Regions from separate parts of the Homo sapiens genome. Here region 1 is linked to region 2. A link means that fine-mapping ties the variant in region 2 to the plasma level of a protein whose gene starts in the linked region. Region 2 holds a variant in brackets. A gene starts in the other region. All regions are shown on their reverse strands.

Region 1 (5,374 bases), not on the chromosome of region 2:
CATCTCAAAAAATAAATAAAATAAAATAAAAAAGAATATAAATATTAGAAATGTAACATGCTTTGACTTTTAGGAATAATTCCAAGTTTTCATAACTTTTTTGTCTGGGAGGCTATCTAGACTTTCTTACAAATGTCCATAAATTAATTACTTATTTATGGACATTTGTATTTTCTAGGGATAATATTGGAGGAATGCTTAAAACATTATAGACAAAAGCGTTGAAATGTTTTCACCACCATGAAGCTGTGAGTTGAAAGCATTAGCCCAAGTCCTTTCACTTGTTCAGTTTTGTTTTCTTTTTTTTTTTTTTTTTTGAGATGCAGTCTTGCTCTGTCGGCTAGGCTGGAGTGCAGTGGTGCAATCTCGGCTCAATGCAACCTCCACCTCCCAGGTTCAAATGATTCTCCTGAGTCAGCCTCCTGAGTAGCTGGGATTACAGGCACCTGCCACCACACCTGGCTAATTTTTGCATTTTTAGTAGAGATGAGGTTTCACCATGTTGGACAGGCTGGTCTCAAACTCCTGACCTCAGGTAATCTGCCTGCCTCAGCCTCCCAAAGTGCTGGGATTACAGGTGTGAGCCACTGCGCCTGGCCTTCAGTTGTTTTCATCCTATAAATCATACCTCCTTTGCTTTGGAAAATTAAATCAGTAATATTTATCAATTACATTTTCCTTATTCCTATTATTAGCAAGTCTATTGAACCAGCAATGTCTCACTTTTCATGAAAATGAGTTCCTAAAATGCAGTGGTGGCTACCTGAAACGTGCACATTCTTAACATTTGGATTTAATCTGGAAGGATGTCTAAACCATGTAAGGAATATATGAACAGCTCTCAGAATCTTGTTAACCTGGTATCCCACAGTACAGAAATAGCTTCTGTAATTCAGAAATGCAATAATCACCTGTTAATTTCTCTGATGGGTGGTTTAGGCATTTTCAGTGTTTAATTAACCTAATTCTTTGAGCTGGAAGCTGGGGGCTAGAGATAGCAAGTGATGTACAGAGGAACCCCATTTCGGAACTTGGCCATCTTCCAACAGGAATGGGCTCATGCAGGGATTTCTGCCCTTGGACTTTTTTTTTTTTTTTTTTTTTTTTTTTTACTCGCATAAAGCTGGAAGGAAAAAAATCTGGCAGAGTCTATAGCTGTAGTGAATAGGATGGGATTTGAATCAGAACAGGGTTGCAGTCCCGATTCTGTAGTCAAAGGCTGTGTGACTTAGACAAGAAATAAAACCTCTCTGTGTCCCCATTTTCTGTCTATAAACTGGAATCTACTTTGCAGACATGCTAAATGAGAAAACAGAATTTTAATTGATATACCAACATGTCACGATCATTGTTATTGTTGCTGAAAAACAATGACTATAAATGATACATATGCACTTTATTTTTGAAAAAAAAAAACTCATAAATTTAAAAGCACTTTATTATTTTAAAATTTTCAAAGAAGACCCAAACTTCTTTATGAACAATGCTGTGTGATGAGATGCTTGCCCTTGATTCCAGGAACTGAAACATGTGGCAAGTGGAAGCGATTTGATTTTGTAGAACAAGCACACTTTATTCAGCTAATGGGAGGGCAGAGGTGTGAAGAATGTGAGAAGTGCTTAGCCTCAATAACCTCATTCTTCTAAATGAGTGATGCTGGCTGTGGGACAAAGCAAGAAGGGCCTTTGCTGAACCCACCAGTCCACCAAGGATGTTAACAGCTGGCATGCAACTAGATGGTTTCACTTGCAGGGTCCTCAGGATAAATGAGGTCTATTCCCACAGTGGCTTAGAGCACTCATGAAACCTTCTCATGAAATCTGGAAAGGAGGGAGCCCTTCTAGAGAGTGGGCTGGGCTCTCTTGCTTTCCCTCTGTCAGATGCACACCTGGAGAGGAATGGAAAACACAACCTCAGCTCAGGAGAAGCCAAGAAATGAACATGAGAAGGTCCACAGAAACAGGGCCAAGTGTAACACACCAGACACAGACATGACATTGATGCTCACCTTCAGTGTGGATTCCCAGAGTGACCAAAGTGTGGAAATCAGGAATTGGTCTAAAAGAAGCCTTGACTTGAGAAATCTGGGGGCATTGGCTTTTATTGGTTAATCAAAAACCTCATTTTGATTGGGGAAAAATAAGTTGTTCCTAGGTAAATCCATTCCCTGAATTGTGGGGGGGAAAAAAGGACTTGGTTTGTGTTTGGGGGAAATTTGCTATCGGTTGTTTCTTGCAGACTTTGGAAGGGACCCTTGGATTTCAAAAGCAGGCACAGCCATATTGTGTCTTTCCTCATGTCTTCTGAGTCATTTATGATATCTCATGTGGCTGGTTATCAATGAACTGTGTCATTGCTCAGACATGGCGCCCCTGCTCCGTCTTTTGTGTTTGAGATGGAATCTACATAAATATTTGCTGATCAAGTCTCCTGTGCTAAGTGTTGGGGGTACAAAATATGGAAAGTCTTTGATGTCATGAACCTCACACTCTAGAGATAGTTGGATACACAAAAACTTTTCCACTCTAACTTCTTGTCTTTTCATTGACTCATCTACATTGAAAAATGTAGCAACCTGTTTTGAGATGGATTAGATGTAAGTTAAACTTCTTTTGATACAAAGTCATTTCTTTCCTGGAGTAAAAGTAATGACACTTTTTATGATACCCAGTGGCTCTCGAAGAGCAATAAAAAATGTTAATGGTTAATGTTTGACTGAAGCTGAAGGGAGAGGCTGGGAGGCAAAGCAGGGAAGAGGGAGTGTTCCCGGGGGAGATACTCCAGTCGTAGCAAGAGTCTCGACCACTGAATGGAAGAAAAGGACTTTTAACCACCATTTTGTGACTTACAGAAAGGTAAGGGCTGACATGTCTTAACTGTGTCAGTAACGTATTTATTCCAGAAGGACAAAGTAGATGGAGGGGGAGGGCACTTAAAAAGTTGCTTGACAAATTTGTTCCTTGAGGTGGGCTATGCAGATGCGGAGAAGGGAAATTTGTTGCTGGCATGACAAGTTTTGCTTATGGAGCACAATTTTTTTTTGTAGTTTCTTTTCATTGGTCCATATTTTATAAATTCATTTGATGAAGTGGCTGCAGTGAAATCAAGCTTGGCAGTGGAATTAAAGGGGAAATTGAGTTCTCTGATGTTTAAACAAGTATCACATCCATTCTTTGTGATGAGTATATAAAAGTCCCTGGTCTTAAGATGCTCTAGGGCTCTTGTATTCTAGAAATTGGGGTTGGAATCACATTCTCAAAAAGCATGTCATTCTATCTACTTCTCAGAGAATGAGATTCAATTTGGGATTCTTAGAATTGTCTAGGACACAGCAAGGGAGGGAACATGCAGAGAAGAAGAAAAGTCTTTTTGTAAAAGTACTAGAATAAGAATTGAAGACAGACAGACCTGCCTTCACAAGTGAGAGAAGAGGCTGATGTGCGTGTTAATCAGCTTCCTGGGCTGCTTTTGGCCTTGGTGGTGGAGTTACCACCTGCTAATGTGTGGTTATTTTTATGTTAAGCCACACACAGCTTATTGGTATCTTCAATGGTCCGATATTTGCCTCTGTCTTGGTCTTTTATGACAGGTGACTTTATAGGGACAGATGCCCTCTGTGGTAGGGGATGCCAAGCAGCAGATTGGAAGGACAGTGCCTTCTCTAATATTTTCTTGTCTTTATTTTTCTTCAAAAGCTTAAATAGCAAATGAGGCATTATTTGAAAGAAGAAGAAAAAACACATGTTTAGATGAAAGGAAGATGAATGCTATTCAGCTCTCACCAGGAAACAAAGCGAGTCCTTTACTGAGAGAGGGTTTCTAGTGAGTTACGGGGCCATATGAGTCTTCAGGGTTGGCCAAATGGGTTAGGCCAGTTTCATCATTTTCCAACCTGTGGGCACAGAACAGAGAGCTGCCACTAGAGACTTGCCTAACTAGGTAGTTGTGAGAAGTAAATTAGATAAGTAGGTAAAGAGCTTACTATGTTGCTTGGTGCATGGTACACATCCAGTGAATGTTAGCGCTCTGTTCCATGAGAAAGTTCAAGTAGGTGACTCAGGATGAATTGAGAAATTTTTGTTTCATTCTTTAGAAAAATAAGAAAAAAATCAGTGATGCCATAAAAATAGCATCTACCATTATGCAAGAGAGGAACTAATTCTATGTTCAGGAAGTAGGATTCAAAAATATGAGAATAATAAAACTATTGGTTTTGCTATATATATAGCATTTTAAAGCCCCTCTCATGGTTCCCATATAAGTCTTTGGGTGAGGTGCAGGTGGGGCATCCTTTGAAACTCACCCAGATGACCCCTGAAAAAAGTCATCACTGTTCAAGGTGAAGGTTACATTTCCGGTACCTCCTCCTTTCTCATACAAAAGGCAAAATATGGCTGGGTGTGGTGGGTCATTCCTGTAATTCCAGTACTTTGAGAAGCTGAGGAGGGAGAACCGCTTGTGCTGGAGTTCAAGACCAGCCTGGAAGGTCTGAACATAGGGAGATCCAGACTGTACAAGAAAATTAAAAATTAGCCAGGCATGATGGCACTTACCTATAGTCCTAGCGACTTGGGAGGCTGAGGTGAGAGGATTCCTTAAGCCCAGGAGGTTGAGGCTGCAGTGAGTCATGATTGTGCCACTGCATTCCAGCCTGGGTGACAGAGTGAGAACCTGTCTCAAAAAAAAAAAAAAAAAAAATCTGGATGATGTGCAAAATATATCCTGGCAGAAACTCTACTTCTCGTTCCATTGTCAAAAAAAATGTCTAGAAGGATGTGTCCCTCATTTTTCTTCCACATTAACAGCAACAGCTCTGAGGAGGAAAGCTGGGCATTGTCATGCTCCTTGCTCTGGAGGCCGACAAACAGTGCTTGAACAGAAGCTGGTTCACATGGGTAGAGATGTATAGATTTGACATAAAATTGCATTGATTCAGAAATCTCTGGTATCAGATTTAGAATGGGGCTAGTTGTTCTGTAACTGCTCGTTGATTATCCAAAGAAAGACACACGGAATTTTAAGGGAATACCTATCTACTTATTTGTTACTTGTAAGAACAGACAGGAAGAAGAAGGAATGTTTACTTAGGTACAAGAAATATTAACTTAATAAAAGCAGATATTCCCCTAGTGGCTGAGGTATTAACTACACTAAAGTTGATTTTTTTTTTTCACTTAAGCAATACGTAACAAGCTAAGCTATGCTTGATTTTTGTGTATGTGGTACAAAGAAAATTTCTCTTCAAATATTCTGTAAGACTGACATGGAATTCTCTCATTCATGATATTTCTGAGTTATTCATTTTTGACCATATACTTATTACTTAAAAATATTAGGACTTGTTCTTAAGTGACGGATGAGGAGAATGGAAATG
Region 2 (5,374 bases):
GCACAGCCCATCTTGTGGCTGAGAGCTGGGGTGTCACGTCTCAACCTAGCTCGTGGGTGCCAGGGAAGTGGGGTCAGGGATTATGAGAATCCCCAGGCTACAGCCCTTGGCTCCAGGATGTGGCCCTGGAGGTGACTGAGAAGGGGACTCATGGGCCTGTAGGCTGGGTGGCCTGGGATCGGGGATCAGAAGCAGACACTGAAGTACAGAGAAAAGAGAAGTATAGAGGAATTGCGAGGTGTTCCTGCAGGGCAGAAGAGAGAAGCCTGGGACCCCACGACGGGTAGTCTCAGACGCACCCTTGGAAGCGAAGTGGACATCAGGAGCTCCCTGCCCCGGCCCTGGTACCAACAGCTGTACCCAGACACATGGGCCCTGGCCGGGGTAAGAGAGTGACGGCAGAGCTGGGGAGGAGCCGCCGGGGGACAAAAGGCAGAGAGGCTGAAACCAGAGGACCGAGACCAGGGGTAGAAGTTAGAGGGCTGTCAGGGAGGGAGAGGCCAGTGTGAAGGGGACACTCAAGCTGGGGGCGTGAGGCAGGTGACAGAAGGAGTCAAGACAGGAAGGGCACTGCTCTGGGAAGACGTAAATCCCACCCTCTACCCTCCAGCTGCAGATACAGATTGGGGCTCAGCCGCTGCAACCTGCTCAGTGCTTGGTGGAGAGTGGCAGAGACCCAGCTCCCTCACTCTTTCCCAACCTCGGTTTTCCCTGCACCTGGAGCTCTGGAAGAAACCTCTCCTCACCGCCCCCTCCCCCAGTCAGGCCGTGCCTCGGTTCTCCCTGCACCCAGAGCCCCAAGCGGTGCCTTCTTATCCCCCCTCCCCAGGCCTTACAGCCACTTTTCCCTCCCCTTTCCTGGAACATCACATCAGGAGCTTTTCTCCAACCCCCTTCCGCCTCTCCCCCTTACCTGTGGCCCACGGGGAGGCCTTGAGCATCCAGAGGAGGCCGAGGAGCCCCAACAGCTGCATGGGCCCAGCGGGCAGGGGGCTGGGGCAGAACAGGCTTCAGGACCAAGACAGCGGCAGGGACGTGGCCCTGGGGCGTGCACGTAATGAAAGTGCTGGTTATCGGTTTTGCTGAGCGTCAGGGCTGAGCACAGCCTCACCTTTGCACCGCCCCACCTCTCCCCTCTTCCTCCCTTCTCCCTGCACCCGGACAGACAGACGTCAGCGCTGTGGGAAGCGGGACACGGGGGAAAAAGATAGGACAAGTCCAGGAAGTGTCAGGCAGGAAGAGCTGCTATTGGCTCAGCCCCACAGCCTGCCTGGCCCACATGGAACTGCCTGGAAGCTGCCCTTCCTCCCCGACACCCGTGGAGGGTACCCTTGACCGAGGGCTTGGACTCTGGAGTCTGGTCCTACTCCTGCAGCCTCTCCTGAGTTTCAATTCCTCCTGCTGGGGAGACAGTGGCACCTCGCTCTCCTTCAAGCCCCTTCTGTCCCTCAGTCTGCCCCTGCTCCATCCTGTCCCCCGCAGGACCCCATAGGCCAGAAAAAACCGTGGGAGTAATTAACACAGAATTCCATCTGAAGTCATTTTATTATCTGAAGAGTTGGGGCTAGGTCCCAGAAAAGGAAACATGGATGACCAAAGGAAACACTCAAAAATACTAGTCTGGGCCCGGCGCGGTGGCTCACGCCTGTATTCCCAGCACTTTGCAAGGCTGAGGGGTGTGGATCACTTGAGGTCACGAGTTCGAGACCAGCCTGGGCAAAATGGCAAAACCCCATCTCTACTAATAGGCTGAGGCAGAAAAATCGCTTGAAACCAGAAGGTGGAGGGTGCAGTGAGCCAAGAGCACACCACTACACTCCAGCCTGAGCAACAGAGCGAGACTCCATCTCAAAAAAAAAAAAAAAAAAAAAAAACTGGTTTGGACCCAGCACATTGTTTGACCTATCCAGTTTGGGCAAAGGTGTGAAGAATAAACGTTCTTACCCAGCTGGTGGATGTGTAGGTGGGTTGGGTTGTTTTAAAAGAGTAATTTGAGGATCACTTGAGGTCAGGGGTTCGAGACTAGACTGGCCAACATAGTGAAACCCCATCTCTACTAAAAATACAAAAATTAGCCTGGCGTGGGGTGGGCACCTGTAATCCCACCTACTTGGGAGGCTGAGGCAGGAGAATTGCTTGAACCCCAGAGGCAGAGGTTGCAATGAGCTGAGATCGTGCCTCTGCACTCCAGCCTGGGCAACAGAGCGACACTTCATTTCAAAAACAAGATAAAGTAAAACAAATGTTCTTATCCAGCTGGTGGGTGTGTAGGTGGGTTGGGTTGCTTTAAAGGGGTAATTTGGTGGCATCTATTAAAATTTTAAATGAGTGCCTTAGGACCCAGCAATTTCACCCTCCATCTCTGTGTCCAAGAAACCCTTCAAGGCAGCATTCATGAGGATGTTTATTGACTCTCGATTATGGCAATTTTGATGGAAATTGGAAACAGCCCAAACGATTGTTTCAACCCAGAAAGAAGATGGAATAGTCACCCTACAGAACACTGTGCTCAGGCCAGATTCAGTGGCTTACGCCTGTAATTCCAGCACTTTGGGAGGCCGGGGCAGGAGGATCTCTTGAGCCCAAATGTTCCAGGCCAGCCTGGGCAACATGCCAAGACCCCATCTCTACCAAAAAAAAAAAAAAAACACAAAAAAAATTAGCCAGGCATAGTGGTGTGCCCCTGTGGTCTCAGCTACTTGGTAGGCCAAGATGGGAGGATCACCTGAGCCCAGGAGGTCAAGGCTCCAAAGAGTCATGATCGAGCCACTGCACTCCAGCCTAGGTGACAAAGCAAAAACCTGTCTCAAAAAAAAAAAATTATGAATATAAAATTAGGTCAGGGCCAGGCACAGTGGCTCACATCTGTCATCCCAGCACTTTGGGAGGCCGAGGTGGGCGGATCACTTGATGTCAGGAGTTTGAGACAAGCCTGACCAACATGGCGAAACCCCGTCTCTACTAAAAATACAAAGATTAGCC[G/A]GGCATGATAGTGCACTCCTGTAATCCCAGCTACTCAGGAGGCTGAGGCAGGAGAATTGCTTGAACCCAGGGGGTGAGGGTTGTAGTAAGCCAAGATCCCGCCACTGCACTCTGGCCTAGGTGACAGAGTGAGACTCCGTCTCAAAAAAAAATTATAAAATAAAATTAGGTCAGACCAGGCACAGTAGCTCACACCTGTAATCCCAACACTTTGGGAGATCAAGGCGGGATAATCACTTGAGGCTAGGAGCTCAAGACCACCCTGGGCAATATAGCGAGACCCATCTCTACAAAAAAAAAAAAAAGATAAAAAGAAAAATAGATCTAAATAGGTCTGACCATCCCTAAGGGAAGAAGCTTTGCGGAGAGAAACTGCAGCTCTTCCTCTTCCCAGCAGGCCCAAGGGACAGGATTGCAAAGGCAGCCAGCGAACTCTCTGAGGCCAGGCCCGCTGGGAGATCTTCGTGAGGGGCTGTGCCTCTCATGTCTCCTGGGGGACCTTGTCCTTATCGAGAGTCACTGAAGGGACCCTAAATAAGAGGCGCTGTGCATACCCACCAAGTGACACTGCCTGCGCATCGGTTGTGCAAATGGCTGCACCAAAATCCAGGGGACACATTGTATAGCCCTGGCCTCAGTGTGTGTGGTCAAGTTGAGGAAGTGAGCAAAGAAATGAAAAGCTAAAGAGTCCAAATGAGGTGGAGCTCAGAGCCCGACAATGACACCACTGGGGGTAACTCAGGGGAGGGGCCAACAGGGAGCAGGGCTACTCTTGGGGTCTTCCACTTCAATTTCTTAATACATTTGATCAAGTTGCCCAGCATGAAGATACTCGTTTGCAAAAAGTTTTGTTGTTGTTTTTCAGAGCAGTCTCTGTGGAAACTGCTGAGCCACATGGTCAAGCACCACAGCCAGCCAAGACGCTGCAAACCAAGCTGGAGGTTTCGGGGGTTTCCAGTCTTTTTTTTTTTTTTTTTTAAGTATCAAACACCATAAAATTCCCATCACTGTTCTGGAGACACAGACGTAAATGGAAAATGGATTCCTGTTGTAAGTAAAGATCACCAGGCTCCTGGGGAGATGGATCCCAGATCTACCCCCATCCACCACCCCTTCTGTCCATCACCTCTCTAATACCCACACCCCCTTCTGCTCCAGCCACCAGACCCCCAACCTCAGCCTCTGCTCCACTCCAGGCCCTTGCCTGAGCCATTCCTACACCTGCAGTGCCCTCCTGCTCCTCCGCTTTCTCTCACCTGTGAAAATCCCACCTTTCCTTTACAGTTCTACACCTTCCTCACCTCCTCCAGGAAGTCATGTGCAATCAGGAAGTGACCTTTTCCAGTCCTGGAATTTTTTTTGTTTTTTGTTTTTTTTGAGGTGGAGTCTCACTCCGTCGTCCAGGCTGAAGTGCAATGGAGTGATCCCGGCTCACTGCAACCTCTGCCTATGGGTTCAGGAGAGTCTCCTGCCTCAACCTCCCAAGTAGCAGGGGTTACAGGCATATGTGCCACCATACCTGGCTAATTTTTTTGTGTATTTTTAGTAAAGATGGGGTTTCACCATATTGGCCAGGCTGGTCTCAAACTCCTGCCCTCCAGTAATCCTCCCACCTTGGCCTCCCAAAGTGCTGTGATTACAGGTGTGAGCCACCACATCTGGCCCACTCCTGAAATTAATGGTGCTCATTACTGAAATCTCTCCCATGATGCAAACTTACTATCTCCTAGCTGGGAGCACAGTCATTTGAACGCCTGCCCAGAAGGGAGAGGGAAAGGTGACATCTTTGCATTCTGAATGGGGACAAGTGGCCACTTTCCCTGCAGAGCCTGGGTAGGAGCCCCGCCCCACTCAGGGAGGTGATGGATGAGCTAAGACTGCAGGAATCCTCTGTCTGCGGTTTGAGAATGCCCCATGCCCACATTGGGGTCCAGCTTTCGTGGGGAAGCTGGAGAAGATGGAAGAGAAAAGAGTGTTCTATTGGGGTTGGGAGACATGGCTGTAATGTCAGATGCTGCTGACTGTAGGCTGCCCACACACAACTGAGACTGGGAGCTGGCTCCAGAAATTAATCAGATTCCAGCCAGAGCTCAAGACAGGCAAGAGGATTGCTGGGGAGAAGGAAGGAGCAGAGCTGTGGGAAGACTATGCTGACGATGGCAGTGTCGGCCCAATCATCAGTGACACTTGCCATCGGGTCCCTTCCTAGTGACACTGAAATGGAATGCACAGGAAGTCAGTGGGGGGCACTGGTCTCCCTCCAAGGTCACTTTTGTCACAGGTACCTGGGGGAAGACGTGAATCCAGAAACGTACAGGCCGGGACCAGCCCCCAAATATCAAGGATTAGGGAGGGACATGTTGAAACTAGGGCTATGGGCTGGACACAGTAG

Alleles and levels. Positions count from the first base shown, and alleles are read on the strand shown. Strength reflects both the effect of a copy and how common the allele is.
For the plasma level of the protein whose gene starts at base 2,783 in region 1, A is the low allele of the variant in region 2 and G is the other (strong association).

What was found. PIP is the posterior inclusion probability: the model's chance that the variant is causal. Protein levels are from antibody-based Olink assays in UK Biobank. Linkage for the fine-mapping came from a reference panel and not from the study's own genotypes, which makes the PIPs less certain.
Region 1: it holds the start of CDH17, and the variant in region 2 is fine-mapped to the plasma level of the CDH17 protein (UK Biobank, PIP above 0.99).

The regions. Positions count from the first base shown.
Region 1 is chr8:94,205,964-94,211,337 of GRCh38, reverse strand. It overlaps CDH17 (cadherin 17), which reads left to right and starts at 2,783. Exons shown (of 18, transcript NM_004063.4): 1 at 2,783-2,855. RefSeq lists an enhancer at 4,057-5,256.
Region 2 is chr7:100,945,225-100,950,598 of GRCh38, reverse strand. MUC3A (mucin 3A, cell surface associated) reads right to left here and starts at 1,065. Exons shown (of 12, transcript NM_005960.2): 1 at 914-1,065. The coding sequence starts at 974. It overlaps LOC105375431 (a long non-coding RNA gene), which reads left to right. Exons shown (of 3, transcript XR_007060457.1): 2 at 3,848-4,032. RefSeq lists enhancers at 1-547, 548-1,526. The variant G/A (reference allele first, on the strand shown) is at 2,983.